Linked DNA regions of Homo sapiens. The protein of the gene in region 1 interacts with the protein of each later gene in a biochemical or structural test. Each region holds a gene or a part of one and is shown on either strand. Other genes may lie near its edges.

Region 1 (4,100 bases):
AGCCACAACTTCCCCAGCTTCTCCAGCTCCCCTGTCCTCTTCAATCCCTTGAGATATAGCCAACTAACGACGCTACTGGAAGCCCCAGAGCAGAAAAGAAGCACATCCTAAGATTCAGGGAAAGACTAACTGTGAAAAGGAAGGCTGTCCTATAACAAAGCAGCATCAAGTCCCAAGTAAGGACAGTGAGAGAAAAGGGGGAGAAGGATTGGAGCAAAAGAGAACTGGCAATAAGTAGGGGAAGGAAGAATTTCATTTTGCATTGGGAGAGAGGTTCTAACACACTGAAGGCAACCCTATTTCTACTGTTTCTCTCTTGCCAGGGTATTAGGAAGGACAGGAAAAGTAGGAGGAGGATCTGGGGCATTGCCCTAGGAAATGAAAGAATTGTGTATAGAATGGAAGGGGGATCATCAAGGACATGTATCTCAAATTTTCTTTGAGATGCAGGTTAGTTGACCTTGCTGCAGTTCTCCTTCCCATTAATTCATTGGGATGGAAGCCAAAAATAAAAGAGGTGCCTCTGAGGATTAGGGTTGAGCACTCAAGGGAAAGATGGAGTAGAGGGCAAATAGCAAAAGTTGTTGCACTCCTGAAATTCTATTAACATTTCCGCAGAAGATGAGTAGGGAGATGCTGCCTTCCCTTTTGAGATAGTGTAGAAAAACACTAGATAGTGTGAGAGGTTCCTTTCTGTCCACTGAAACAAGGCTAAGGATACTACCAACTACTATCACCATGACCATTGTACTGACAACAATTGAATGCAGTCTCCCTGCAGGGCAGATTATGCCAGGCACTTTACATTTGTTGATCCCATTTGACATTCACACCAAAGCTCTGAGTTCCATTTTACAGCTGAAGAAATTGAAGCTTAGAGAAATTAAGAAGCTTGTTTAAGTTTACACAGCTAGTAAGAGTTTTAAAAATCTCTGTGCAGAAGTGTTGGCTGGGTGCTCTCCCCACCACTACCCTTGTAAACTTCCAGGAAGATTGGTTGAAAGTCTGAATAAAAGCTGTCCTTTCCTACCAATTTCCTCCCCCTCCTCACTCTCACAAGAAAACCAAAAGTTTCTCTTCAGAGTTGTTGACTCATAGTACAGTAAAGGGTGGAGGTGATATGGCATTCTGAAAGTAGGGAGGGACTAAGTCAGTCATCATACTAAACAAAAATCCCAGTACCCTTTCCTTATTTAGCTACCAGAATGATGACAGACAGACTCAAACCCTGTCAAGACAGGACCCTGGAGGATCCTCCTATGGGGAAACTGCATAATCTGAAAAAAAGGCTGACAGATACAAATAGTTGAGGATCCTTCAACACAAAAGCTGCGTGTCTGCCCTATTACTCACCTGACGATGAAGCCCACAATGCAACAAATCCCTTCCACTCACAGCATTTGGTCAACCTGTCAGAGCCTCATTCTTAATTATGAAAAGTAGTCAATGAACACAATACATTTGAGGGAAAGGCCGTAACATGAAAGGCACCAACAAATAAATGTGAGAGTAGATAGAGACCTTTTGAGTATAAAAGATCCTCCAAAATAAGAGATTAAACCAAGATAGAGGAAAACACAGTAGCTGGGAAACAAGGAATCCAACGCAGGAGAAAGTGAAGAGAATTCCCAGGATGTTGGTGTGTAGCAGGCTTAGAAAGCAAGTCATTCATGTTGGAGCAGGACTCTTAAAGGACTCTAGGAGAGATGTCTCCCAGAAAAAGAAGAAATTAATTGATTCATACACATTGAGAGGGATTTAGATTTCTCTTGCAGAGATTGAGATAAACTAGTCGTAAATACATAGAAAAATAAGCAAGTAAAAACGCAATACAGTTTTTAAGTGCTAGAGGAAAAGAAACTTTTGTATTAGAGAGGAAATATAACCACAGTACACTACATGGCTCAGCTGTGAATAATATTTACATAGAGGATAATGTGAATATAATAGTCTCCCATTATCTGTGGTTTTGCTTTCTGCAGTTCAGTTACAGCCAGCCAGTCTGAAAATATTAAATGGAAAATTCCAGAAATAATTCTTAAGTTTTAAAACATGTGCTGTTTTGAGTAGCATGTTGAAATCTCGCACTATCACCCTCCACCCATGTTCTGGGCAGGGCAAAGTGGGATGGTGTGAGATTTCTCCAGTGGATCCACAATGTATATGCTACCCACCCATGAGTCACTTAGTCATCATCCAGTTGCTCAGATCAACTGTTGTGGTATAACAGTGCTTGTGTTAAAGTCACTCTTATTTTACTTACTAATGTCCCCAAAGCATAAGAGTAGTGATGCTGGCAAATAAGATACACCAAAGAGAAGCTGTAAAGTGCTTCCTCTAACAGAAAATGTGAAAGTTCTTGACTTAATAAGGAAAGAAAAAAAACACATGCTGAAGTTGCTAAGATCTACAGTAAGAACAAATCCATCTGTAAAATTGTGAAGAAGGCAAAAGAAATTTGTGCTAGTTTTGCTGTTGCACCACAAGCTGCAAAAATTATTTATTACACCCCACGGTGTGTGATAAACACTTAGTTAAGATGAAAAGGTATTAAATTTGTGGGTGGAAGACATGAACAGAAATGTGTTCCAATTGACAGCAATCGGGTTTGGTACTATTTGGGTTTGGTGCTATTCGTATTCAGGGTCTTGGAATGCAACTCCCACAGATAAGGGGGTGCTGCTGGAGTGAAATACTGTGATATAACCTTTTTTTCAGGAAATGAAGGGAGAAGATGTGTACGTGTGTGGGAGAGGTATAAGAGACCTAGGTTGCCATATTCTATCACAGAAAATGCATAATAACTAAATCTGGAAAATGATGAATAGCTGTACAACCATATTATTTAGCAATAGGAGGTAAATACAGGTAGAAGCAGAAGAAAGAATGGGCAGGGGTTACCTCTATGGAGAAGCTGGGGTGGGAGGATAGGGTGGGGACTTATTTTACGAACTGTGTAATTGCCTAACTTGTGAATATGTATTTCTGAAGTAAAATAAAAATTAAGTTAAAATTAAATTTTAAAATTCAAACTAATTCTGAGTTGTTTTTTAAAACAAAAACAAAAAAAGACAAGAAAGCCCATCAGAAATGGAAACTGAACATTGACAGAAGAAAGGAAAGCAGGAAAGGACCAGAGTTGTATTTCAGTTCTTGAGAGAAGCCCATCTAGTCCTGCCATGGGAGGCAAGTCCTTTCTTGGGGTGAGGAAAGTCACTTTCTGGGGTTAGAGAGATTTTGATATGTTACTTGGGATATTTTTAGTTGCAAGTAACAGAAAACCCTACCCCAAGTGGCTTACATAATAAAGGGATTTGATTATCTCATATAACTGAAATATACCGAGGGAAGTTGGACTTCAGGCCTTGTTCAACCAGGACATCTGTGGGCTTTCCTCCCCAGATGTTGGCTCTGCCACATGGGTGAATCCTCTCATGGAAACAAGCTGACTGCAAGCAGCCTGAGACTACACACTTCCTTATTTGTTTCTAAAGCAAACTAATGAAGAATGGATTACTCTGAATGAGGATGATGACAGTACACACCTAAAGTAGTTGAGGTGAAACCCGCTGAAATCTCATCTGGGAAAGGGGTGAAATGGGGCTTGCAGAGGCCACATATGTACTGCAAATGAGGTGGAGAGAGAGCTGCCAACCAGCTAAGCATCCATGCTGGGTGTGGCATGTAACTGAGCAGGCAGCCGGGCAGCTTTGGAGGGTGGGGGGAAATGCAGGCTCTAGGAAGAAGGGCAAAAGTTAAATTTTGAATTTCGGTTGTGAAGTCGTAGGGATTTTCAATTGTCAATGAGAAACCTTAACAACTTTCCAAGGGCAAAATGGCCCAAATAAAGCTGGGAGTAACAGAGCAACCAAGGTCCTTAGGATGAGCATAAGAGAGGGGTTGTGAATTATTAATGTCTATGGTGTGTGTATGTGAGAGACAGACAGAGACAGAGATGTAATGGCTTACTTTTCCTTTTTCCAGCCAGAGTGAAGCCTCCTATTTGTTGAAATATGTCCTTGGAGAGGAAACAAAATGGAACTCTTTACTTACCATAGCAAAAGCCAAAAGTGTCCTGGGGTTTTGGACACAGCTCTTTT
Region 2 (4,701 bases), on another chromosome or scaffold:
ATTGATTGAACGTACTTGCTAAAAATACTTTCTGGGTCGGATGTACTTAGAATGCAGCCTCAGGAAATTTCATTTGAACTATTCTGTGACCAGTGTACACTTCATTATTGTTGAAGGACTTTTAAAAAAAGTATAGATCTCTCATACTCGATTTAATCAGTTTGAGCATAGATGCCTAACTTTAAAAAAAAAGTATAATAAAGTGGGATAGTAATACAATTTACGTGAGATGGTAATAAAAACTTTTCAGCTTTTTTTTTTAACTTGTATGACTTCGTTAGGTTGTTATTAAACTGTGATTTGTATTTTTAAAATAGTTTTGTCTGTTAAACATAATTGAGGTGTACAGTACAGTATCCATTGTTATCTGTTTAGTATTTATTTATGACTTACAAACTCTAAAAGCGGGATCAGTGATCATGGTTTTTAGTAAGTTGTCTTTAAGGAGCAAAGTAAGAGACTAGCAGAAAATTGCAAGGAGGTTTGTTATTGAGAGTACTTCTGCCCCCCGCTTGAGAGTTAATATGGCCACTTTTAAACAAGAAAAGTTTTCCAGAAACGTGGAAATCTTGTTTGGTGTATGTTTAGGGGCAAATGTTTTAAAGTTTTGCCTAAATTCTTAGTTAGAATGCAAAATTGATCAACTCCCTAGGAATGGTTATTGTGGCTAAATATGAATTGTTGCTCCTATGTAAAATTTAGTTATTGGTAGAAGTTTACTAACTGAGTTGAATTTTGTTGTTTTCCTGGGTTATTGCATGTTATGAAGTTTTTTATGTACTATAATCCAGATTTGTTAAATTTGCCAGTTTACTAGAATAAGCTGTGAAGCCTTGAAGTTTGGCTTAGCATTCTGAAAATCCTTTTTATTGTTTGCCAGGAAAGCACTGTAGGAAGGAGGTGTTATCTCTTCATTTAATATTTAATGAGTAGTATAGATGATGAGATAGGATATAATGTAGAAATACCGTAGAATCTTCTTTATTGATATGAAAGTACCATTGTCTAGGAACAGCATAATTTCTTATCTTTTGCATGAATGGGGAAAAAGAGGAGGGGAAATTTATTAGACTCTTTCATTTCATTAGAGATATCTTCCCTCACATTCATTCTTCATTTCATTATTCTTAAGTAGAAACTTTGGAAGAGAGATGCAAGTATTTGAATTAATTAGTAAGAACAAAATGAAAATTACATCGTATAGACTATCATGAGGAAAATATCAATTTGGGTTGGTTATTGTGTTTGTATTTTTTAACAAGGAGGTTATATAGAGTAGTAGAAAGAAAAAAGGACCCAGAGGGGAAGAGTGTTAATATTTATTGTCTGTTAAGTGTCAGATCCTGTATAAGGGGCTTTTCATGTTGTCCCACTCACCAAGTATGCTTTATGAGGTAGGTATTATTAATCCCCTGTCCTCTCCCTGCCAAATAGAAGCTAAGGGAAATGAAATAACTTGTCTAGGCTCATACTTCTAGTAAGTGGAATTCTCTAAAACTTATTCTTTAGATCGGTTCTGTCCAATTAAACTTTCTGCAATGATGGAAATATTCTTTTTTCCTTCAACTTTATTGAAGTATAATTGACAAATATCATAGAAATATTTTTTGCACTGTTAGTTATGGTAGCCATTAATCATGTGTGGCTATGGAGCACTTAAAATGTGACGAGTGTGTCTGAGAAACTCAATTTAAAATTGTATTTAATTTAAATCAATTTAAATTTATAGCCAGATGTGGCTAGTAGCTATAGTATTGGAGAGCATAGCTTTAGGTCTGACTGCTTAGAAAATCTGAGTTGTAGTATTTAATCTTCCACTGGTTTATGCATGGCATTGGGCAAGTTGTTTAGTTCTGGGCTTCAGTCTAATCTGGTGTGAAAATGAAGGGGTCGCCACTAAGAGATTATCTCCAAGGTTCCTTCTTGCCTGAAGTTCTGTGACTGTTATTAAAACATACAGTAGCATTCAATATTCACAAGCATTATGTCTGAAAGGATCCCCTCCCCAATATGCTCACCCATTACCTAAAGATTTCTGTTTAGTCAGTTTCTCTTTTTGAGAAGCGTATGTATAAAGCACACATAAAGGATAGTGGATTATTCCCCACCTCCCCAACTGTTCGGCAAAAACATTGTGTAACTCAAGGCAGTACTTTATGATGGAACAAAGTTTGAATCTTTAAAGGCCATATTTTAACATGCCACCTTCCCGTTTAAAAATATATAGGAGTTCCCCGGTGCTTATCAAATTAATCCCAAATTTACCTGCTTGACCTTGAAGACTTTCTACCAACTTCATCTCATTAACCTTGTTTCTCATTCGTGCTTAAAAAGAAAATAGTCTTGTTTTTTCCTTTGTCCTCGTTTCCATAATTTAAACATCTCTGTCTCCAATTCATGTGCCTCCTCTTTAAACCTTTTTCAAAATTCACCTGTTTCTGGAAGAATGCTGCTTAATCCACTCACAAGGATCAGTTAATGAATCCTGGTAATAAGTACCCTAAGGTTAATATATGCTTGTTTAGATATAGTTTAATATCTTCTTAAGCTTTTTTTTTTTCTTAAGTTTTTATGTTACCTACTCTGTTTCCTTAATTTTCTTAGGTTAAAAAAATTAAAATAGGAATAGCGTCTTTTGTATTGTCTTATGAATTTAGTTCATTTTTCAACAATGCTACTTTTAAAAGTTGCTAATTTTTAAAAAGGATAAATACTGTAACAACGTTTACCCTTGATCACCACCATAATAGCTATTTTTTGTTTCTTTCCAGGTAATTGTTCATATTTAAAAAATAAAGTTGTGTGGTAGAGAGAATTTTGAGAGGAATATAATGGGAACATTGTATGGTGGAGGCTGTGCAATGTAGGGGAAAGATCACAGACTTTGGAGTCAAATCTGGTGTGGAATCTAGCGTCAAAAACCTCGGGCAAACTGTCTGATTTCTGAGTCAGGAGTCAAATCTGGTGTGGAATCTAGCGTCAAAAGCCTTGGGCAAAGTGTCTCATTTCTGAGTCAGGTGGTCTTGAATTGTGGGGATTAAGATACTATATGTAAGGCATCTAGCGCTGTGCTTTAAATACAAGAGATGATCAGTCAGTGATAGTTGGTATTATTTTTTCATTTTTCTATTCCCATCTTCATGAATATTATTTATTTATTTTAGCTACCCAAAGCCACCAAGGTCAATGAATATAATTTAAGTGATTAGTTAAACATTCAGGTGATATACCATAACTGATTTAGACATTTACATTTTGTTAAGCGGTTTTTTGTTTATTTCCTCAGTTTAAAACCCTAGGACTGGGATAATGGTCAAGTGTCATGAATATTTCTGTGCCAGATCTCTCTCTTACAGAAGTACCTACAGTGGTTGTTCTTGTTTTGGGAAGAAAAAAATGCTAATTTTATAATTGTATTTCATTGTTTTAATTAATGTAATTTGAAAATTTATTTGGTGATGATGTAATGAACATTCCTTTATATGTTAAGCAAACATTTGAAATGCCCATTGTAGTGGGAGCAGTGGTATAAAGGTAAATAAGACATGATTCTTGTCCTTGAGCTCAAATTCTAGGGTGGTAACACATGTCAACAAACAATTAACAATTCATAGTGACAGTGTAATAAGATCTGGGGAAAAGAAGTGGCATTTGAATATGGTCTTGGAGGATCATTTGGAATTGATCTGGGTAGAGAGAACAGCATATAGAAAAAGTCAAAGTATGAAAGAATGTGTGGTGTGTTTGGAGAAATGTAAGTTGTCTTGTTGGATATGTCTGTCTCTGTCTGGGTGGGTGTGGTTGTCTGTTCCTGTGTGTGAATCTGTGTGTGTGTGTGTGTGTGCGCGCGCGCATGTGCGTTGATTGCAGTGGGAAATGAAGTCTTGTGAGGGTCCTTGTGTTTGGGCAATGAGTGGGATCATTTTAAGACCTTTAAAATAGAGCTTCCCAACTGGTGTGCCATGAATGGTTTACCAGTGTTTCGGAGAGCAAGATACCCTTGTTTAATGGGACCTGGGCATATCAGATCCCCCTCCCCACCCTGCCCCAGGATGGTTTCTTTTGGCTTTGAATAGCATTTGTGGCTTATCCCAACGTGCTAAGAAATTATTATTTTCTTTGTTGCCAAGTTGGGAAAAGGATTGGGAAAACCACTGTTTTAGAGACTGTAAGTATTAGAAAGTTTATGGTTCCTACTCACCCTTGGCATCCACTATGGAATCAGAAATAAATATCAAATCCTAAAGTAAGCTTAAGGTAAACTTAAGAATTCTTAAGTCACCTTCCTCTTTCTCTCTCTTTTTCCCTCCCTTTACCCGCTGCCTCCCCCATTTCACTGGTGTATGCGCATGTGCGCGCGTGTGTGTGTGTGTGTGTGTGTGTGTGTGTGTGTCTGTGTGTGTGTGTGTGTGTGTGTGTGAAATATCTCTTTGGTGCCCTTGCGTTACTGGTGCCCTAAACATGCATTTAGTCTGCCTCTTGGGAAATCAGCATTAACATTCAGGAACAATTTAGAGGTATTTAAATAAGGGATGATAAGATTAGATGCAGGTTTTGAAAGGTAACTCCTGACTTCTAGATAATGATGCAAAGTTACAAGGATAATGCAAGGATGAGGTTAGAAATGGAGCAGAGAGACCAGATGCTGTTGCAGTGGTCCAGGGGAGGGATGATAGGAACCAGAAATAGGGCAATATAGAT
Region 3 (4,701 bases), on another chromosome or scaffold:
TTACTGGTTTATTATAAGGGATACAACTCAGGAATAGCCAAATGGAAGAGATGCAAAGAGCAAGGTTTAGGCGGGTGGTGTGGAGCTTCCATGCCTTCTCCAGTCAAACCAGCCTCCCAGCACCTTGAAATATTCGCCAACCCAGAATCTCTCCAAACACTGTCATTTAGGAGTTTCATTAGATGGGCATGATTAAATTACTGGCCATTGGTGACTGGCTATCTCTAGCCCCTCTTTGCCTTCCCAGAGGTTGAAGGTGGGGCCCCATGCCTTGGTCTTTCTGGCAACCAGCCCCTAACCTGAAGCTATTATAGGGGCCTGCCAAGAGTTGACTCACTGAAACAAAAGATGCTCTTATCACCCTCATTCAAACAAAAGACTCTCTATGCTTAAGAAAATTCCAAGGGATTTAGAAGCTCTAGGTCAGCTGTCAGGGACAAAGACCAAATATATATTTCTTATTGTATCACAGCCATATTAAGGGCTGACATACTAAGACAAAAAGATACAACCCACTATCCTACCCTTAAGGAGCTTATTTACAATTTACAGGCTCAAAGTTCTTCACTTTAATTCAACTACTTTTTTTTTGAGACAGGTTCTCGTTCTGTTGCTGTTGACCAGGCTGAAGTGCAATGGTGCCATCATGGTTCACTGCAGCCTCAACCTCCCACACTCAAGAAATCCTCTCACTTTAGCCTCCTGAGTAGCTGGGACCACAGGCACACACCACCAAGTCCAGCTAATTTTCGTATTTTTTGTAGAGACAGGGTCCCACTGTGTTGCCCAGGTTGGTCTCAAACTCCTGGGCTCAAGCGGTCCTCCTGCCTCGGCCTCCAAAATACTGGGATTTCAGGCATGAGCCACTGCGCCAGCCTCACGTACATTTTTAAACACTAGGTAAAGTGGAAAATGGCTTTCATCAAAAAGTTTCTAATCTTACCAAAAAGACAATGTTAAAATAAGTCTTAAGGCAGGCTATATTACAGACAAAGCAGAAAAGCCAAGGGCTTTGGGATCAAATAAAATTAATTCAACTCCTTTCTATCACTTATAATAGGACTATGGAAAAAATATTTAATCTCTCTGAGCCTCAATTTCCTCATTTGTAAAAAGAAGAATGCTGACAAAGAACTTGAAATGTAGTTGTTAATATTTAAGAAATACATACAAAGGATACAGCATACAGCATAACACATTAAGAGACACAGCGAGGGATACAATTCTGGATAAGAGGGGAAAGCAGAAAGTATTGTGATTTGGTCAAATGAACTATCAATCTTGCTATAAATTTTAAGTATAAAAGGATAAGGTATAAAAAACAGAAGGATAAGATTCCTTTAGGATGCCTACAAAAACTATGAAATTTATTTTCGTTAACTCTAAGTATGTACTGATTACCCTTATGCAAATCATTATTGTGAAAAACATTTGCAGGTCATTTATACAGTCGATGAATCACCTGGATCAGAGACCTGTATCTGGGGTTCATGACTTTATTTCCATGAATCCCTGCATATTGTATGAACAGTGTGTGTGTTTCAGAGGAAGGGCCCAGATGACTATCAGAATCACAAAACAATCTGTTTAACTAGAATTTTTTGTTTAATATTAGACAGTTAAATCTGCATGTCCAGTACACATAAACTGGAGTTTATACAGTTTTCAATGTGAGGCAATGTGATTTCCAATACTAAGACAGAAGAACCACTGTTTAACACATAACTTATTTTCTTCCAGATTTTTTTGGTCAGTAAATATTTGAGTGTCTAGTACTTCTGAGCATAAATGAACATCAAACAGTAGTCACAGCTCTCGATAATTTACAGATGAGTTACAAAAAAGAATAAATTGTTAATGCATACTTTACTAAAATTTTAAGAACTAAAACTTATTGCCAGTAGGAGGGTATGGAACGTTCCTGGAGGAAGGAAGAGTGGGTGGCTGAATTTTAAATGAAATTATGAACACAGCCTCTTGGAGAAGGGTTACTTTCGTCTATCTACATCAATGGTTTTCAAGTTGTAGGATGTGACCCATTTGTGTGCCATAAAATCGCTCTAGTGAATCTCAACCAGCTTCATAAAAAACAAAATAGAACAGCTTTATCTTGATAGAAACTCAGAAAAAAAGACTTTCCGAAGCGTTACTTACATTTCAAACATAACACAAAAATGAGTATCTAAATATGGATACTCTAAGTACAACCAAGTCCTAGCAGAGCACCTAGCTCACTACATTCATAGGAAGCAATCACGTTAAACGAATGCAGTCTTAAAGGCACTTCTAAAACACACAAGCAAAATACAGATTGCCTACTTCTTACATCAAAACAAAATAATGTATTTTAAGTTACATTCTCAAACCTTTTCTGTGACAATGTAAAACTCTCAAAATATAATGTTTTCACACAAAATCCTCAACTTTTTGTGTGAAGTTTCTCAAATTGTGAAGCCAATTATGATTTATATCAAAAAAGCATAACTCAAAAGATAACTATAGACACATAATTAAAATTTCTAATATTTGAACTTATTAGATATACTACAAACTGTAAAAACCTGACTCTCCTTAATTATTTCACATCTGTTGGTTTGTGACAAAGCACTGTGCAGTCTTGAAACAAAAAGTGAATAAGTGAATATTTATTAAGTATCTGCTATGTGTCAGATATTTTGCTAGGTGCTTTCCATATCTCAGCTTGAATTTTTCAATCATCTTTCAAGGTGGCTACATGTCATAGGTGAGAAAAGTGAGGCTTGGCCTAGAATTACAGCATGAAATAAATACCCCAAGCTTCCTTTTACTACATTACTACAATTACTGTCATTTCTCCTGCTGATTTTTTGCCTTAAAACATTGGTATGAGGCCAAGCATGGTGGCCCACGCCTGTAATCCCAGCACTTTGGGAGGCCGAGACGTGCAAATCACCTGAGGTCAGGAGTTCAAGACCAGCCTGGCCAATATGGTGAAGCCCCATCTCCACAAAAATACAAAAATTAGCCAGGCATGATGGCGGGTGCCTGTAATCCCAGCTACTCGGGAGGCTGAGGAGGGAAAATAACTTGAACCCGGGAGGCAGAGGTTGCAGTGAGCTGAGATCATGCCATTGCACTCCAGCCTGGGGGACAGAGTGAGACTTGGTCTCAAAAAAAAAAATTGGTATGTAGGCCAGGCGTGGTGGCTCATGCCTGTAATCCCAGCACTTTAGGAGGCCAACTTGGGAGGATCACTTGGGTCATGGAGTTCGAGACCAGCCTGAGCAACACAGTGAGACCCCATCTCTATCTCAAAAAAATAAAATAAAAATGTTGGTATGTAAACTAAGTCCAGAGGTCAAATCAGGCACACCTTATTTTTATAAGTAAAGTTTTATTGGAAAAGTCATGCTCATTTGTTTGGCTACCTCTGCCACTCTAACAACAGAACTGAGTACTTGCAACAGAGACAATATGGCCCACGAAGCTAAAATACTTACCGAAAGTTGTTGACCCCTGCCTTAAAGAAGCAAAATGCCAAGAACCCTGGAGGCCTCAAAATTTCAACGTCTTTGAGGGTGTTTGAGACTATTAACTGAAGAAGAAACTATAAAATTATATGAGACAGAAAGCCAAATGTTTTAATTTTTATAATGTTATATCATAATCAAGAAAATTTAAGTCCTACTAAAATGTAAAATGTAGGTAGGTAACTGTTAATGAATACCTTGACTCTACTGACTTCATTAAGTATTTTAGTTCACAAAATCTTATATTTGGTTTCCTTTTTTTTTTAAGAAAAGAGATCTTGTTATGTTGCTCAGCTGGACTCAAACTCCTGGGCTCAAGCGACCCTCCCACCTCAGCCTCCCAATTGGCTGGGGCTACAGGCATGTGACATTGCTCCTTCATTTTTAAGAATAAATGTTAATGTATATTAGTTTTTAAAAATCCAAAATGATTTTTGTTTAAAATAACCCCAGAGTTAGTCCCAGAAACATGCAAATATGGTTCAACATTTGAAAAATCAGTGTAATTCACCATATTAACAGATTAAAGAAAAAAGTTCACACAATCATCTCAATACATGCAGAAAAGGCATATGATAAAATTCAACATCTATTCATGATTTAAAAAACAAACCCTCAGTAACCTAGGAACAGAAGAAAACCTCCTTAACCTCCTTAACAGAATGCACAAAATGACCTACAGCTAATATCATTTTTTAAAAGTGAAAGACTGAATACTTTTCCTTTAAGAAAGTGAGCAAGAAGCCAGGCACTGTGACTCATGCCTGTAATCCCAGCACTTTGGGAGGCTGAGGTGGGCAGATCGCTTGAGCCCAGGAATTTGAGACCAGCCTGGGCAACATGGTGAAGCCCTGTCTCTACTAAAAATACAAAAAATTAGCTGGGCATAGTGGCACTTGCAGTAGGTCCCAGCTACTCAAGAGGCTGAGATGGGAGAATCAACTGAGCCCAGAAAGTCGAGGCTGCCGTGAGCAGTGCTGCGCCACTACACTTTAGCCTGGGGATAGAGTGAGACCCTATCTTAAAAAAAAAAAGTGAACAAGATAAAGATGCTACTTCTCATCTCTCCTATTCGACATCTCAGTGGAAGTCCTAACCAAGACAATACAGCAAGTTAAGGAAAAGAAATAAAAGGCATACAGACTAGAAGGAAAGAAAAGTTTTGAGCACGACTGTCTACTTAGAAAATTCC
Region 4 (4,701 bases), on another chromosome or scaffold:
GTCAGTGTCAGTCCTGGCTCTGTTCCGCGACACCTCTGGTGGGCTGTGGTCTCAGCAGGACCCACGTGCTCAAGGGCAAGCCTTCCCGAGCTTCCCCATCGTGTTGCCCCCAGTCCAGGAAAATGAAGGGTGTGGGAGGTACAGAGGCATGGCTCCCAAACCAGCGGCAACACCTGAGAACTTGTTGGAAATGCAACTTCCCAGGCTCCAGCCTACACCCGCTGAATTGGGCATGGGGCTTGTGGGTCACGAGCCCAGAGCTGGGTGTGGGGAGACTCACTTGGGTCGGTCCCACCTCTGCCTGACGACTTGGACCAGCCCCCCTTCCTCTCCCTGGGCCTCAGGTCAGACTAGACGCTCTGAGTTCCCTTCTCTGACCTTGATGACTCTGCTCATTCCTTCGGCAAATATTTGTCGAGCAGCTGCTTCATGTCAGACACTCATCTGGGCTCTGGGGATGCAATCGTGGAAAAACAGAGTGACACCTCTGACCCTATGGAGCTGACGTTCTAGTCTACAAATGAGGCTGTGGTCCCACGGGTGCACAAGTCTCAGGGTCCCACAGCTGCCTTTTGAGAATCACTGTGTAGCTGGGTGCTGTGACATGTGCCTGGAGCCCCAGCTACTCCGGAGGCTGGGGCGGGAGGATTGCTTGAGCCCAGGAGTCCAGACCAGTTTGGGCAACATAGTGAAACCCCCATCTCTTTAAAAAAAATCGCTTATACTTGAGAGTCTTAAAGGCTCTAAGAGGTCCCATGAGAAAGAAACCCACTTAATTTTTCTTTATATCCTAAACTTGTTGAACAGCAGAATTTCTCCTGAATTTCTACCCCTGACCCCCTGCCCTGCCCTGCCCCACCCCCAGGAACATCCTTGCGTTCCCCAGCACACATTTCGAGAGGTGTTGGCTACAGACAAGCTCATGATGGGCAGGTGAAGGGGGAGCAGCTTTCCTGGATTTGGAGATAAAAGGTCTCTTCTGTGAAGGCAAGGGTCGCTAACCCCTAACCGCCTGGGAGGAAAGGAAGGAGAGAAAGACATTGTCTCTCCCAGTCGGGGAGCTGGTCTCCTTTTCTGGGCTGGGCAGTCTGGTGGGAGTGTGTGAGAGGAATGCTGTGGGCTGCAGAGGCAGGGGTGCTGTGTCCTTGTGGCCTCCTGACATGGCCAAGGCTGCAGAGAGCTGGAGGCTCAGGATGCCCTTATAGTGCCTCTGGAAATTACAGGTTCCCCCTGCTGGTAGGCACATGCCTTGGTGAGCAGAGGCCAAGTGAAAAAAGCCCCTCTCCCTCTGGTTGGGAATGAGGACTTGCCTCATGAAGGGATCCCGGGCCGGTGCCCTAGGCAGGGCCCATGGTGGTCTGTCTGGAGATGTGATGTGGCTCGTGAATTCCTGCGGAAACTATCTCTAGGTCCTTCAGGTGACCGCACAGCCCCGGGCAGTTGCCCTGGAGCCCAGGTGTGGAGTCCCAGCCCTGCCTCTGATGCTGCAGGTGGCTTGGACCAGCTACTTTGCCCTTCTGACCTGCAGTCTCCTTACCTATAGAACGTTTTACTGGAGAACCCTGAGAGCAGAGGGATGCGAGGCCAACTGCTGGTAGCAGCCTGGTGGGGTGAGGGTCTAGGGTTGTTTTCTTAAGATCCAGAAGTTTTTGCTTTAGCTTAAGGATGTGTGCAATTTTCCATGTGGCTTCATAATTCATCCATGACTTTGAATTTTAAAATGGAGAGAAGTTGGCTTCCCAGGAAATGGTGCCCCTGGCCCTGGGCATCGGCCCACCTGGCTGTCTCCAAGGCTCTCCTTCCCAGTGGCTGGTGCGGGCTCCGGGAGCTCAGCTGAGTCCCATTGGGGTGGCAACGGAAAGGGAGCAGGGGAGTGGGGAGTACGGAGATGCAGGCTGGAAACTGGCCTCCAGGAACAACTGTGAGGTTGAAGGCGAGATTTCCATGTTGGGAGCAAATTTAAGAGCCCCAGATGGACACGGCACACCTGGAGACAGGCACTGCTGCCTGAGTGTGGCCCAGGGAGGGCTCGGCTCCCCAAAGCTCCACGGGGCAGGCCCAGACCTCCCAGCAGAGTAGGGACAGGCTGGTTAGCCCAGACTCCCGCCTCTGAGGAGAGGAACCAGCTCTCCTTGGGAAGAGGGCCTCTGCCCTGGCCGGCCCTGACTCCCAGGGGACTTCGACCCCTTGCTTCATCCCTTTATGTTTCTATCTCCTCAGTGCAAAAGGGCAGCGTGCTTCCTCTCTGCTGGTTCCGTGGGATCGGAGCCAGGCCCCAGTGTGCAATGTCTTTGCACACAGATAATAGCGTGCGTGACAGAGGACTCTGTGCTTAGCTGTCACCTGCTGCCTTCCTGCTGCCCGGTCCCCGGCAGAACCCGCATGCCTCCCTCCCTCTCTGGACCCTGGCAGTCTCTGCGCCCTGGCTCCGAGGGAAGGGGCAGGGGGCCCGCTGGTCGGCGAGGGCTGGGAGCCCCCGACACCTTGGCTCCAAGGGAAGGGGCAGGGGTCCGCTGGTCGGCGAGGGCCGGGGGCCCCCTGGTGTCGGGCCTGGGAACAGCCGGGCTAGGCCCTCCTGGGTGTGTTGGCCCAAGGCTCTGGCCCTGACTCCTCCCCGGCTGCCTCCTCCCAACAGGCCGGCCTCGGCCGCGCTGGCGACTCGGCGGTGCTGGTGCTGCCGCCTTCCCCGGGCCCTCGTTCCTCCAGGCCCAGGTACCAGCAGGCCCCGGAGGGTCGGGTTGGGGTCTTGGAAGGCTGGGAGGGGCAGGAGGGAGACGGGCTTCCCCGAGAGGGATGGGGTCCCCCAAGCCCAGTTGGCTCCTCCACCTCCCAGATTCCTCCCCCTCCCCCACGCTCTTCTCCTGCCCCCCACCCCCTTGCTTGCCTAAGCTCCGGCACGGGACCCTCATTCCTGGCTGCCTCCCACCCTGCAGCATGGACTCGGAAGGGGGAAGCCTCCTCCTGGACGAGGACTCGGAAGTCTTCAAGATGCTGCAGGAAAATCGCGAGGGACGGGCGGCCCCCCGACAGTCCAGCTCCTTTCGGCTCTTGCAGGAAGCCCTGGAGGCTGAGGAGAGAGGTGAGGGTCTGGGGGGCTGGGGAGGGGAAGGAGGTTCCCTTCCGTACCCCGGGCCCTGACTGGATGGGTCAGTGAACCAGTGTTCTTAAGTGCCTGTGAGGTGCTCACCCCAGGACTAGGCACGGAGCCGAGCAGAGCGCGAAGCCCCAGCCCCTGCCCATAAGGAGCTGACGGTCCGGGAGGGTCCGGGAGGGTCACCAGCGTGCTCCCACAGAGTAGTGGGCAGTAGCCAGCTGGGATGGGAAAGTGTCATTCGAGTGATAAAAGCGGTGGCAGGGCCTGGGGCTGGGCCTCCAGGGAGGGCTTCTTGGAGGAAGAGGGATTTGACTTGGCCTCTTGGCCTTAGAAAAAACATCAAGACTTAAACAGCATTAAGAGGGTGGCAGGAAGCACTGTGGAAGGTGGAGGCTGGCGGCCAGAGGGCTTTGGGGTGTGGGAGTGAGAGAATGGGGGCCTGATAGCATGAAAGGGCGCCAGTGGAGGCCAAGCCCCTGCAGTGAGGGCCCTCGGGAAGGGAATCAGGCTGAGGAGTGCCCTAACCCAGGAAAGCCATTAAATACTGATGCCAGGCGAGCAAGACATACGGAGGCTTGCCAGAGTTCCGTTATTCATGTGACAGACACTGACTGTGCCCATCTGAGGGACCAGATGTGTGCAGAGTTTGGGGATAGGTGGCCATGACCCCACTCCTGCCCTTGGGGAGCTCCGTTCATTGGGGCAGATGGGCCTGGCCAGCTCCCATGGAAGTGAGCGCTGCTGTGGGAGTTACTACTCCCACAGCCCCTGTCCTTAAGGTGCTCAGCACCAATGCCCTCTAGAACAGTGGGGAGAAGGGGAGGGAGATGACAGGACAGGTAGGAGAGTGGCCAGAGAGGCTTCATAATTCATCTATGACTTTGAATTTTAAAATGGAGAGAAGCTGGTTTCCCAGGAAATGGTGCCCCTGGCCCTGGGCACTGGCCCGCCTGGCTGTCTCCAAGGCTCTCCTTCCCAGTGGCTGGTGTGGGCTCCTGGACCTCAGTTGAGTCCCATTGGGGTGGCAATGGAAAGGGAGCAGGGGAGTGGGGAGTACAGAGATGCAGGCTGGAAACTGGCCTCCAGGAACAACTGTGAGGTTGAAGGTGAGATTTCCATTTTGGGAGCAAATGTAAGAGGCCATATGGACAGGGCACACCTGGAGATTGGCAGGTGGCTGGTTCTAACGCTGATGTTTAGCTCCAAGGGGCATTTGCAGAGGCACAGGGGGTGGGGTGAGAAGGTTTGGAGCAAATCTGGTCTGTTTTGACCCTGAGGCCTCAGAAGGTCCCAGGAGGCAGCACAGGGAGAGAGCAGTGACTTTGCCAAGGAGGCCTCAGCGTCCTTAGCTGCAGACGGGCGACAGCTGCCCCGTAGCCCTGGGCTTCATCTTCGTGTGGCTTGAGAGCTCAGATGTGACAAGGCATGGAAAAGCACTTTGAAAGCCACACCGAGGCATTGCGCTCCTGTTGCCATCTCCAGTTATTATCTAATCACACTGTTATTACCAGGTCATTAGAGAGGGAGCACCTGCTTCACCTGACACTGAGCACAGATGGCCCCAGGTGGCCTTGGATGGGCAAACTCGGCCTTGTACCTGCCTCCTT
Region 5 (4,701 bases), on another chromosome or scaffold:
TTAAGAAAGAAAACATTTTGCTTTATTTTATCTCCAGTGTACCTCTCCCTGATTGCATTTTCTTCCTGCCTCTAAGAGGCATTTGGGTTCTTTCTTTTTTTTTTTTTTTTTTTGTATTTTTAGTAGAGACCGGGTTTCACCCTGTTGGTCAGGCTGGTCTCGAACTCCTGACTTTGGGTGATCTGCCCGCCTCAGCCCCCCAAAGTGCTGGGATTACAGGCGTGAGCCACTGTGTCCAGCTGGCATTTGGGTTATTTCTATGTACTGCTTTATACCTGTCTGTATATACATCTTTAAGGAATGCATCATATTGTTTTAAAAGTTTTCTATCATTATAGAAGTGCATATTTATGCTTTTGCAACTTGATCAACACACTGTGAGCTTCATCCACATTGATAGTATATGTCTTATTTGTTATTTTTGCTGTTGTATAATACATATGTATAATTATGCCACTATACATTTTTCAGTGGGCATTTACATGGTTTCCAAGTTTTTGCTGTTACTCTCAGTGGGTTCAATGAAGATTCACCAACATGTCTTCTTGAAATCTCTCATCCTGGCCTCGACCTTTGCACATGCCATCGTTCTCTTGGAATACCCTTTCGCCTCATTTTTTGCCCAATTTCGATTCATTCTTCAGGTCTCCACTTACATGAAAACTCTTCAGGGAAGCTTTCTTTTTCAAAAGCTGTGTCACTGTGTTCCTGGGGCACTGGGTACTCTTCCTTTGGGCTCCCATTGCACTCTCTCCTTACCTCTGTAGCCTTATCACACCATATTTCAATTACAGTTGACATTTCTCCTTACCTCACTAGATTTCACATTCTTTGAGGCTGATGCATGCCCCAATATGCTTTAGAAGAATTTGTGGATTGCATGATGAATTGAATTGTGTGAACTTCCTAAATATGATGATGATGATGATGATGATGATGACTATGGTGATGGTGATGGTGATAATAATAGCTAAAAATACTGAGGACTTACTCTGTACCAAGTACTATGTAACTATTTTACAAGTATTAGCTCATATGGTACATATTTGCATGCATGAAGAATGTGATAGTGAAATAATTCTTAATTAGCATCATACTTCGCTTGAGTAATTAAATAAGAGCGATTTTTTTTCTCATTTGCTTCTCTGTGCATATTGTGTTTCAGTGTGTGATGAGCATAAGGAATTCAAGGATGTCAAACTCTTCTACCGCTTTAGAAAGGATGACGGCACCTTCCCATTGGATAATGAAGTGAAGGCCTTTATGAGAGGACAGAGGCTATATGAAAAGTATGTTCCGCATGAAATCCCCCCTGTAATCTTGACTTATAGAAAGAAGCAGAACTGTGCCAGTCTCATTATGTTGATTTCAGCGTGGCTTTTCTATGTGGGCTGGTTACATAACTGTTCTTTTCCATATGAGAAAACTATCAAGCATTTGCTGTCTCTTTGCCAGAAAATAAGTCAATTTCATAAGGTTCTTAATAAAGAATTTACTTAAATCTTATTTTCTGTATTTAAGTTGATTCTACAAAGCTCCAGAATTTTTGTTTACCATCAAATGATGTGGATGCCCCTTTCCTCTCTTATTTTTATTTTTTATTTTTTGGCACTGAGTCTCACTCTTGCCCAGGCTGGAGTGCAGTGGCATGATCTCGGCTCACTGCAACCTCCGTCTTCTGGGTTCAAGTGATTCTCGTGCCTCAGCCTCCTGAGTAGCTGGGACTACAGGCATGAGCCACCACACCTGGCTAATTTATGTATTTGTAGTAGAGACAGGGTTTCACCATGTTGGCCAGGCTTTTCTCAAACTCCTGACCTCAGGTGATCTACCAACTTCGGCCTCCCAAAGTGCTGTCATTGCAGGTGTGAGCCACCGTGCTTGGCCCCCTTTTTTCTTTTAAATACTGTTGTTTTGTAAATTGGAGTTTCAGGCTTGTAAGTGACTGGAGAAGCAGCATCGAGAGCAGGGGAATTGGTCAGGCCAGGAGATGAGTAGTGAGAGAACTTCAGATAGCTGGATGTCTATGAGGAACAAGTTTCAGCCCTTTCAAGAGATAAGTATAGTGTAGCACAGGAGTTTTTGGTTGGTGGGTCTCGAATCTTCTGAGTGGCCATCTCTGGGTTGATCTGCTACTTCTGTGGCCTCTTTACCATTCTGCCTTCCTCATTTAGTTTTCCAGGGCAACCATTAGAAAAAGGGGTGCAGAAGCAATGGCACGTGCTTTGTAACCCTGGCTGCCTTACAAGACTTGAGGGAATTGAAAAATACGTATTTATCGGCCAGGCACGGTGGCTTATGCCTGTAATCCTAGCACTTTGGGAGGCCGAGGTGGGTGGATCACTTGAGGTCAGGGGTTGGAAACCAGCCTGGCCAACATGGTGAAAGCCCGTCTCCACTAAAAATACAAAAATTAGCCCACCATGGTGGTGAGTGCCTGTCATCCCAGCTACTTGGTAGGCTGGGTACGAGAATCGCTTGAAACCAGGAGGCAGAGGCTGCAGTGAGCCGGGATCACGTTACTGCACTCCAACCTGGGTGACAGAGTGAGACATCATCTCAAAACTAAAAAAAAACAAAACATATTTGTCACATAAAAGAGCCTGTTGTACAGTGGTTGGGGGTAAGGGTCTGGGTGGGTGTCTGAGTGGTCAGATTAATTGGCATGATGGTTAAAAGCCAGACAGAGTTTGAAGTGTAGCCCTGTCACCTTACCTTTGTAAAGCTCAGTGTCCTCATTAGTGACATGACAGCAGCAATAGAACCTACCTCCTAGTGCTGTTGTGGGAGTTAAACGATAGCTGTGTCAAGTGCTTAAGTATTTAGCTCAGGGTCTCTGGTGTGTAGTAAGACCTCACAGATGATAGCCATTCCAAATACGAGCACAGTACTGACGGCCACCCTCGACTGTGTCCTTCCTGTGTTATGCGCTCTGTCCCAGTTCTTGTCTCCGTTTCTTGAGGTGGAATGATCACCATTTGATGTCCTAATTTGTACTCAGTCTACTATCACTTGCTTTCTATACTGAAATGGAGAAACTCTCTCATCTTTCTGACTCACATGAATTTGAATGGAAGGGATCCATCAGAACCTCCATTTGTTTACTTGAACATGTGCATTTGTTTTGTTGCTACTTTCTTTTAATTTCTTAGTTCCTTTTGTAAAATTCTAGCAGGTGTTAGGTATTTCAATTACAATGATGTTCCTTTCAAACAATGATTCTATGTTGGCCAAAACATGCATGTCATCTCCAAGGATGAAGGCCAGTGGATTCTGTAAACGCTTTTCCTTTTTTTTTAATTAAAAAAGATTATTATTATTATTATTATTATTATTATTATTATTTTATAAAGACAGGAGCTTGCTCTGTCTCCCAGGCTGGAGTGCAGTGGCATTATCATAGCTCACTGTAACCTTCAATTTCTGGGCTCAAGTGATCCTCCTGCCTCAGCCTCCCAAGTAGCTGGGAGTACAGACTTATGCTACCATGTCCAGCTATTTTTTTTTTAACTTTTTGTAGAGACAGGATCTCATTATGTTGTTCAGGCTGATATCAAACTCTGGTCCTCAAGTGATCCTCTTGCCTTGGCCTCTCAAAGCACTGGGACTACAGCCATGAGCTACTGCACCTATAACACTCTTCTCTAGCTACAGCTTATCTCTTGGGATCTGCATAACCACACTGTGGGGCAGGGATCAGCTATAATTGAAAATGTCTGGCAGAGAACTGTTATTGCTTAATGGGATAGTTATGATGGCAAGACAGTAAGAAGAGTTAAAGTTGCTCACATCTTCTAGAAAGCAGACTTACTCCAGCCTCATGTTCTGTTGGATCTCCCTTCCATCCTATGGGCCAGTCACACAGCACTGTGTATCTCTGAGCATCTTCTTTCCCTTCAGGAGATGCATTAATGCATTAATTATTCAACAAATATAGATTGAGCCCTTTCCACATGCTAGGCACAGCTAAAGACACCAGAAATGCCTGTAGCAAAGCCCCTGCCTTCATGAGCTTGCACTTCAGTTGAAGAGGCAGACATTAAAGGCACAGACACATGAAGATGTGACAGAGTATAATACAGGTGTCGTCGGTGCAAGAAAGAAAAATAGACTTACTGAGGGTGGTGGGGTACTTTAAATAGGGGCATCGGGGAAGACGTTTTTGAAGAGACAACATTTGAATAAAGGAAGCCTTGCAGATATCTGGTGGAAGAACATCCCAGGCAAAGGGAACGGTAAGGATAAAGGCTTTGAGATGGGAATGTGCTGGACATATTTAAGGGCAGTAATGAGACCAGAGTGTCCAGAGGGCAGAAGTAAAGAGGAGAGTAGCAGGAGATGAGACAGGGCCAGTTCATAATAAGGCCCTTAAAACCACAGTAAGAACTGGTGATTTTAAATGTAATGGGAGGCCGTTGGAGAGGAGGGAGTGGGGAAGTGGCAATCTGATATACTTCTGCATGTGCTGTTCCCTCTGCCTAGAGGACTCATGCCGCTCTCACCCCTTTCCCTAAATCACTGACTCCTGTGGCTTCCAGTTAATTGTGAAGGTGGCTCAAGTAATATGTGGTGGCTCATGCCTGTAATCCCAGCACCTTGGGAGGCTGAGGTGGGCAGATCACCAGAGGGCAGGAGTTCGAGACCAGTCTGGCCAACATGGCGAAACCCTATCTCTACTAAAAATATAAAAATTAGCTGGGC
Region 6 (4,322 bases), on another chromosome or scaffold:
AGAGGCAAGTGATCAATTTATTTATTTAGGTGGGAAACACTAAATGACTTTAGGGGCTTTTTACAAAGACTGTTATCACTTAAAAGAAATTACCTGCAGAAGACTGAAGCTGGACCGCTTCCTTACACCATATACAAAAATCAACTCAGGATGGATTAAAGACTTATATGTAAAACCCAAAACTATAAAAACCCTGGAAGACAACCTTGGCAATACCATCTGGGACACAGGAACAGGTAAAGATTTCATGACAAAGACACACCAAAAGCAATGGCAACAAAAGCAAACATTGACAAGTGAGATCTAATTAAACTTAAGAGCTTCTCCACAGCAAAAGAAACTATAAACAGAGTAAACAGCCTACAGAATGGGAAAAAATATTTGCAAACTATGCATCTGACAAAAGTCTAATATCTAGCATCTATAAGGACCTTAAATTTACAAGAGAAACCCCCCCCACCCCCGCCGCCTTAAAAAGTGGGCAAAGGACATGAACAGATACTTCTCAAAAGAAGACGTGTGTGTGGCCAACAACCACATGTAGAATAGCTCAATATCGCTGATCATTAGAGGAATACAAATCAAAACCACAATGAGATACCATCTCACACCAGTCAGAATGGCTATTATTAAAAAGTCAAAAACTATCAGATGCTGGCATGGTTGTAGAGAAATGGGAACACTCATACCTTGTTGGTGGGAGTGTATATTAGTTCAACTATTGTGGAAAGCAGTACGGAGATTCCTCAAAGAGCTAAAAGCAGAACGACCATTTGACCCAGCAATCCCATTACTGGTTATATACCCAGAGGAATATAAATCTTCCTACCATAAAGACATGCATGCAAATGTTCACTGCAGCACTATTCACAATAGCAGACACAAATCAACCTAAATGCCCATCAATGACAGATTGGATAAAGAAAATATGAGATATATACATACACCATGGAATACCATGCAGCCATAAAAAAGAATGAGATCATGTCTTTTGCAGGAATATGGATGGAGATGGAGGCCATTATCCTTAACAAATTAACACAGGAACAGAAAACCAAATACTGCATGTTCTCACTTCTAAGTGGGAGCTAAATGATAGTATCTTATAAACACAAAGAAGGAAACAACAGACACTGGGGTCTACTGGAGTGGGGGGTGGGAGGAGGGGGAGGAGCAGAAGAGATAACTATTGGGTACCAGGTTCAGTATCTGGATGATGAAATAATATGTACAATAAACCCCTGTGACACGTGTTTACCTATGTAACAAAACCTTCACATGTGCCCCCAAACCTAAAAGTTAAAAAATGCAAACAGTTAAAAAAAATTATCAACGCTAATCAGATATCCTCCATTATTATCTCTAAACCTTAGTTCTACCTATAAATGAAACACTTTTTTCCAATAGTAAATATTTCTTTATATATACAAAAATATTTTACCAGGAGTATATAATCTCACAGATTAGACATTTCAATAATTTTTGTTTTGGACAGCACATGGAAATATGTGAAAAGATTTATAGGGACAGTTTCTGAAAAATCAATACTTAATTGTACCACAGGAAAATTTTATTTATACAACAGCAATAATGTTTCTTTTATACAGAAACTAATAATACAATTACCTGGAAAGCAGTAGCAATTAATTTTTCTTTTTAAACTTCTTAATCAGAAACTTTAAGCAGCTTGTTCAGCTTTGATTTTCAGATTGCTAACAAGCATTCTGCCCTCCATTTTTTTTTTTAAAGATTCTCTTCTACAGTTACTTCAAAAACTAGAGGTTTAAAAAAGCATGCGTCTTGTGTTCAAATAAAAGACTTACCAAAACGAACTGGCGTGGGGGGAAAAGGAAGAATAAAAAATTCCCACAGCAAGGTTTTCACATCAAATACTCACCATAGGCTCCAACAGAGCTCAACATAACATGGAGAAATTGCACTTGTTGCTGAATACTAGTGCTCATTCTTCTACAACAGAGTCCAACATATCACTTCTTTAAAAAAAAATCAGTGTTACTGAAGAGACAGGAGCCAGTCAGCAGTTCTTTTTAAAAGAGAATACAGAGACATAAGAAATATTTTTATTGTATTTCAAATACAGATGTAGCTGAGCTATGCCTGAAATCTGGTTCTACCTGAAAAGATGGAGGCATTTCTCATTTAGACCATGTTTACCAGGACAAGCTTTATGTCTTTAAAGCAATGTTACTTACACTACTGTCCACCTCTCCTATTTAAGAATAAGATGAAAACCACACATTTTAACTGGTAATGACTTCTGGTTTAATGTTGGTAATTTACAGCTGATGAGTTTTTACATCAGATGAGTATGCTTTTTTCCTGTTTTAGTTAATTAGGCTTCCTCCAAGCTCCTAGGCTACTTTGATAGGAGGAGAGCCAAATTTCATATATGACCTGTCATATTTATGTATGTTCCTTCCCCTGGCTTGCTGTTGGCTGAAGTACAATAAAGACATCTATTTCCAATTTTAAGACCTTTTTGGCTTCTGTGGTAGCAACACCACCTATTTCATAAGATTCAAAGACAGTTGCTTTACAAGCAGTAAATCACTCAATCTTCTGATTGGTGGCATTTACCTTAACTATAGATGTGTTCATTCCATTTACACTGGAGATTAGAAAACAGTAAGAGCCAGTAGGAGGGGAAAAAAAGGAAGAGAACTATCCCTTCTGATCGACTTTTGTATGTGGAGATAAGTCAAATTTATCACACCATTGCATTATCAGCCAATGACTGAGAAGCAATTACAAAGTAATAACTAAAGTGGATTAATATCTGGATTTTGAGGTTCACAAACTAAGACCTCACTGTGAATGTTTCTTTCTATAAAGAAATAGATGCCTTTTTAAATTAATGGTATGGGTAAAACAGTAGGGCTGCAGTGATTTCAGGTATGCAGTGATTTCAGGTATAAGGATAAAGTAGGACAGTTTTCGGGGGCAAAGATCAGAGTCTTCTGGTGTAACCGAGTACTGGATTGCTTGCTTACATTTTGTTTGATTTGTGAGTGGTCTGGTTGGCAGCAAGGATTTGCTAAGGGTTTGGATTTAGTATGGGATTATAAGATAAAAGGGACTTTCTGATTAGGACTAAGAGAGCAGAACAGACCTTCCACCAGCTGAAACTGTATCTTTGGGGCTATTTTAAAACTGGAAGAATTCCTGAAAAGTATTCACCATTCACTACATTACTTCAGAAACAGGTACACTTTAAAATAACTAAAAGAGAACAGATAAAGTAGCCTAATAAGGATTTTTCAGTTCACCATATCACAGCTACCACATCAGAGTTACAAATTACAAATCAGAATTTAAGGCGAAGACAAATATTAACTTAGCCTTACTTAACAAGTAGAATAGTAATGATAAAGGGAAATATAAATTTCATCGAAGATCACACAGTCAGAAGTCAGAATTAGGATCTTGGCCAGTACCCTGTCTTTACTTTTATCACTAGAGAATATTTTTTAAAAAGTACTGCAGTGTATTGCCAAAGTGGTGTGAACCATGCTTACTTTAGAAATGAGATATCATCATTCTTTCACTGTTTAGTATATTAAGGACTCATGTTCGAATCTCTGCATTTTTCAAAAACTATTCCAAGAACACAGAAGCTAGCATGATGAATTATGGGAAATATTTTAAAAAGAATATAAATTGCAAAACGTTAGAACAAAAATGCAATTTAAAAATAACCTTACCTTAAAAAAATTATAGAACTGTCATCTTCCTCAGGTATACAATATATGCTTGCATAAAAACTGACAAGATGCTCAATTATTAGTCAAATGTATTCTTAAATTTTGTGAGTATTCATTTGTACTATATACAATAATCCCATTATTTAAAAGAATGAATTTCTCCCAAAAATTCCAAATACATTACAGATGTTATTACATGAATTCTCACAGCAAACCTCTTGAAATAAGACAAGGGCAGGTATCATAATCTCAGCCTGAATCATATTAAAGATTCATTCAAAAGTTTAAATAAGAATTTCCAAAGGGGTTTCCATCCAGAACCCTGCCCTTTTTCCCTAAGAAAATTAAATTTATTATAATAATGACTACTTTCTGAGTTTCTCATATATTTTTCAGAAAGATTATCAGCTTCAAGGTGGAACCAGAGCGTTTTAAAACAATCTAAAAAAAGTTTCAGAATGTCAAAGAAATGGGAGTAATTAAAAATTTTAGAATGCTAGTTATAATTACATGAATGAATACATTCAGTTTTATATTCATACATTTTGGGAGAATTTTACATATTATACACATAGCTGTATATATATATATATATATATA
Region 7 (3,535 bases), on another chromosome or scaffold:
TTAAAAATACTGTCTTCTAAATTGACATAATTGCTTTTCTTACCAAAAGAAGGAGAGGTTCCCCTAATTCCTTTTGGGCCATAGATCCGCTTTTAGGATCTGATTAAAGATGTGGACTTTCACCGCAGGAAGATACCCATGGGCACACCATTCAAAATGTATCAGATTTCAACGGTTTTACAAACTCCCCCGGGATTAAGTCAAATGGGTGGATATTACAGCTGTTTTCATCAGATATGGTTATTTGTTGACAACCATCAGGACAACAATGTTTATAGATGGAAGGATAACTTCCTGGTTTTTTTCCACATTGAATGTGGCTAGTTACATATCTCAATTTAAAATAAATTGTGGAAAGCCAAAAAAGTATGGTCAAGCTAACCTGGGGTGGCTTTTACCTGATGCCTACAAGCACAGAAAAATAGTTTTTAATTAAATATCCACAGTCAAAATGATACCTTATGTATTTTATTCCAACAACATTTGGTTTATAAAGGAATACAAACAGGCACAAAACATGGTTCAGAAGATTTATTAAGTAAACTTGCTAAAATATGGACAGATACACTTAGCAGTCAAACAGTTGAATATTCATTGCTACCTCATTAAAGTTTTTGTATCTGTATTACCAGGTCCAAACATAAAAACCACCTCTGTTCAAAAAATAAATGTTCAGAGAGCTGTATGTTCTTTGTTCTGGTATGTACATTTTAAAAAAACACCTCTTTCCAGTCTTGCTAACCAAGAATATTAGTCATATAAAAGAACTTAGAATTTTTTTCCCCAAGTACAAGCTATCTTTTGCTCCAAAACAGTTCTGAAGGTTTTATTTATATTTTATCTTATCCCGAGGGACCAACAGCAGGCATACCTTTGCCAGGCCTTCTTGCAGAAAGACACAGAGCCGTAAAGGCAAAAATAAAATTGCAATAAAGTATATGGTATTGGGGGCAGGGAGAACCAGAAACCCTCAAAGAGAACCAATTTGTAGCACGTTCTTTTTTAAGGCTCTACCCCTGTAGAAGTAAGAAACTAGCCTGCCTTTTTAGCCATATGAGAGTTTCCTCCAGAGCCATCTTCCAAAGTGGCAGACTTGGCCAAGTTGCCCAATGCCAAATAAGTGAGTTGGAAGTTCGTTTGCTTCAAACACACTGCACTTAGAAACCAGACTTGAAATAATCGAAGCCCCACAGAAAAGCTTCATGAAACGAAGTGTTACTTTCCTAGAGAATAAGAAAGTCACAAGATTGAGGAGTCTGTTCTAAAGTTCTTTGCTCCTTGATGTCGAAGTTAACACAAACACAATCTTAGCTTAACGAAACTAAGTAATTTTTGTTTATGATTATAGAACTGCAGGATTCACAAGTAGTATTAGAGACATTCCACACTGCACACTCCAGTCATATCTCTTAACAAAATGACATAAATTGACAATGTTCACTAACAGTATTTGCTGTTACACTGAAAAGGCACATCAATGTTGTCATGCTTAGAAAAATACACAACACTGCACACTGGATGATATAGTTAGCACATACATTTTTAGATGTTCCATTTTTCTTTTCTGCCTGATCACTATTATTTTTACTTCTTAATATATGATTCAAGACATAATTTCATTCTTCATTTTCATTTAAAATTTGTCTTCACATTGATGTGAACAACTTTCAGGAGTCTAAAAAATAGTAGTTTCAGACAACCTAAAATAAATATATTCCTAGAAAACACTTGGATGACCTGCAAACAGATCAAAGATATAGTCAGATATTAAAGTCAGAGCAGCTGTTTTCAGCTTCTTGTTTCCTTTTCTAAAACTTGAAGTAGATGGCGATTAACCTTATCATGTTTAAACAACCTTGACAGTATAAGGTACATGTACCCTCAATTTTCTTCATCCAGTAAGACAAGTATGCATCTTAAAGGGAAAGCTTTTAGTTCATAACAATATGTTTGGTTGCTTTTCTCTGCTTTCGGAACATTTACTGTTTTTCCTTTATTGGCTTTAGTGTTTGCTGCCAACCAGATAACATGTTAACATATAATTTACAACTCTCTCTAGGTAGGTGATTACATAGAAAACTAATGCCAGCTAAGATTTATGGATTCAAAAGATAACTGACACAAGTTCTTGTCCTCTACACTTGAGAGAACTAGCTGTTTAACGCATAAATATATTGATAGTAACTACAAGTTAAATAACATTCAGTGTCACTATATAACATGCTGTCTTACTTGATTCTGTTTTTCAGACTTCATTCTAGTTTCTCTTTGTTGGAAGAGTCTCAGAGATAATGTGTGCTTTAATTTTAAACACTCATTACCAATATGATTTTTGCCCAAATGTTTGTTAATGTAAGTTAAAAAATTATATTTGGTTTGGATTCAAATATTTATAGATTTACACAATACCTATTTCATCAAAATATATTGTATGATATTTAATAAAATTAAATACATAAAATAAAGTTTCAACACTATTTATACAAACCCCTAGAAAAGCTTCTTTTTCTTTATAAGGCTGTTGGCAATCGACCATAACCATGGAAAGGAAATAATAACCTTTGGTTTTACTCTTTCACCAGGGATGGATGGTATGACTAAGACAGTTCTGGATGAGTTGTGTCACTGGAAACACTGTTTTATACAATTAAACACTTTGATGATTTTTGAGGATCTCATCTCAGTCACTTTCAGATTCTTCATCTTCACCTATCGGATATGACTGGATATTATTCTGAGTGTACATTTTTGTTTTAATAGGGCAGTTGTGATCCATGAGAATAGCCTAAAAGAGAGCAAAGTGCAAGTATATTAACTTCTTGTTTCATAAAGATAAGATGGTTTTAACCTACTGTTTTTAAGGATTATTAGTTTGAAAACTATGTAGTATTACTTGCTATTAACCAGTCATTTGGAGCAATCGCCAGACGCCTGACCTAAAAGACCTGTAGTTCTACACTCTAAAAATTCCAGGCAATTGGAGACAGAAGTGGTCTCTGCAGTATTTTCATTATACCTGTCAGGGGCCATAAGTCCACTCTGGGAACTTATACTCTATGAAGCAAGGGACAGGCAGGTTAGGTTTGTTATACTTAGAATCTTGGAATTGGGGTATGGGGATCCTGGAGGTCACCCAGTCCAACTTCTGTTTACAGACGTCATTGTAGCAACACACCTTGAAAGGATGTGCTCTCTCCTTAATGAGAGAAGCCCTCACATGTGAGAAATGTACCTAAGTCTGGACTACAACCCGTTTCCATTGTTTGCATTCATGAATCTGGTTCTGGTATCTTTTTCTTTCTTTCTTTCTTTCTTTTTTTTTTTTTTTTTTTTGAGATGAAGTCTTGCTTCGTCACCCAGGTTGGAGTGCGGTGTTGTGATCTTGACTCACTGCAACCTCTACCTCCTGGGTTCAAGCAACCCTCCCACCTCAGCCTCCCAAGTAGCTGATATTACAGGTGTGCACCACCACTCGCAGCTACTTTTTTTGTATTTCTAGTAGAGATGGGGTTTCACCATGTTGGCCAGGCTGGTC

The links.
Region 2: the proteins of CYSLTR2 (region 1) and PTPN4 interact in a test that uses a peptide from one of them, tested with the Homo sapiens proteins (one large-scale study listed by IntAct).
Region 3: the proteins of CYSLTR2 (region 1) and PALS1 interact in a test that uses a peptide from one of them, tested with the Homo sapiens proteins (one large-scale study listed by IntAct).
Region 4: the proteins of CYSLTR2 (region 1) and PDLIM2 interact in a test that uses a peptide from one of them, tested with the Homo sapiens proteins (one large-scale study listed by IntAct).
Region 5: the proteins of CYSLTR2 (region 1) and DEPTOR interact in a test that uses a peptide from one of them, tested with the Homo sapiens proteins (one large-scale study listed by IntAct).
Region 6: the proteins of CYSLTR2 (region 1) and PALS2 interact in a test that uses a peptide from one of them, tested with the Homo sapiens proteins (one large-scale study listed by IntAct).
Region 7: the proteins of CYSLTR2 (region 1) and PDZD8 interact in a test that uses a peptide from one of them, tested with the Homo sapiens proteins (one large-scale study listed by IntAct).

The regions. Positions count from the first base shown.
Region 1 is NC_000013.11:48,708,195-48,712,294, forward strand, and holds the end of CYSLTR2 (cysteinyl leukotriene receptor 2), read left to right. Parts: 3' UTR 1-3,032; downstream 3,033-4,100. UniProt on the Homo sapiens protein: Receptor for cysteinyl leukotrienes. The response is mediated via a G-protein that activates a phosphatidylinositol-calcium second messenger system.
Region 2 is NC_000002.12:119,762,091-119,766,791, forward strand, and holds part of PTPN4 (tyrosine-protein phosphatase non-receptor type 4), read left to right. Parts: intron 1-4,701. UniProt on the Homo sapiens protein: Phosphatase that plays a role in immunity, learning, synaptic plasticity or cell homeostasis. Regulates neuronal cell homeostasis by protecting neurons against apoptosis.
Region 3 is NC_000014.9:67,247,429-67,252,129, reverse strand, and holds part of PALS1 (protein PALS1), read right to left. Parts: intron 1-4,701. UniProt on the Homo sapiens protein: Plays a role in tight junction biogenesis and in the establishment of cell polarity in epithelial cells.
Region 4 is NC_000008.11:22,586,663-22,591,363, forward strand, and holds part of PDLIM2 (PDZ and LIM domain protein 2), read left to right. Parts: intron 1-2,635; coding exon 2,636-2,712; intron 2,713-2,933; coding exon 2,934-3,079; intron 3,080-4,701. UniProt on the Homo sapiens protein: Probable adapter protein located at the actin cytoskeleton that promotes cell attachment. Necessary for the migratory capacity of epithelial cells. Overexpression enhances cell adhesion to collagen and fibronectin and suppresses anchorage independent growth.
Region 5 is NC_000008.11:119,928,650-119,933,350, forward strand, and holds part of DEPTOR (DEP domain-containing mTOR-interacting protein), read left to right. Parts: intron 1-1,165; coding exon 1,166-1,289; intron 1,290-4,701. UniProt on the Homo sapiens protein: Negative regulator of the mTORC1 and mTORC2 complexes: inhibits the protein kinase activity of MTOR, thereby inactivating both complexes. DEPTOR inhibits mTORC1 and mTORC2 to induce autophagy.
Region 6 is NC_000007.14:24,691,424-24,695,745, reverse strand, and holds the end of PALS2 (protein PALS2), read right to left. Parts: 3' UTR 1,553-4,322; downstream 1-1,552.
Region 7 is NC_000010.11:117,276,412-117,279,946, reverse strand, and holds the end of PDZD8 (PDZ domain-containing protein 8), read left to right. Parts: 3' UTR 1-2,673; downstream 2,674-3,535. Other genes in the region: SLC18A2 (synaptic vesicular amine transporter), read right to left, coding at 2,681-2,785. UniProt on the Homo sapiens protein: Molecular tethering protein that connects endoplasmic reticulum and mitochondria membranes. PDZD8-dependent endoplasmic reticulum-mitochondria membrane tethering is essential for endoplasmic reticulum-mitochondria Ca(2+) transfer.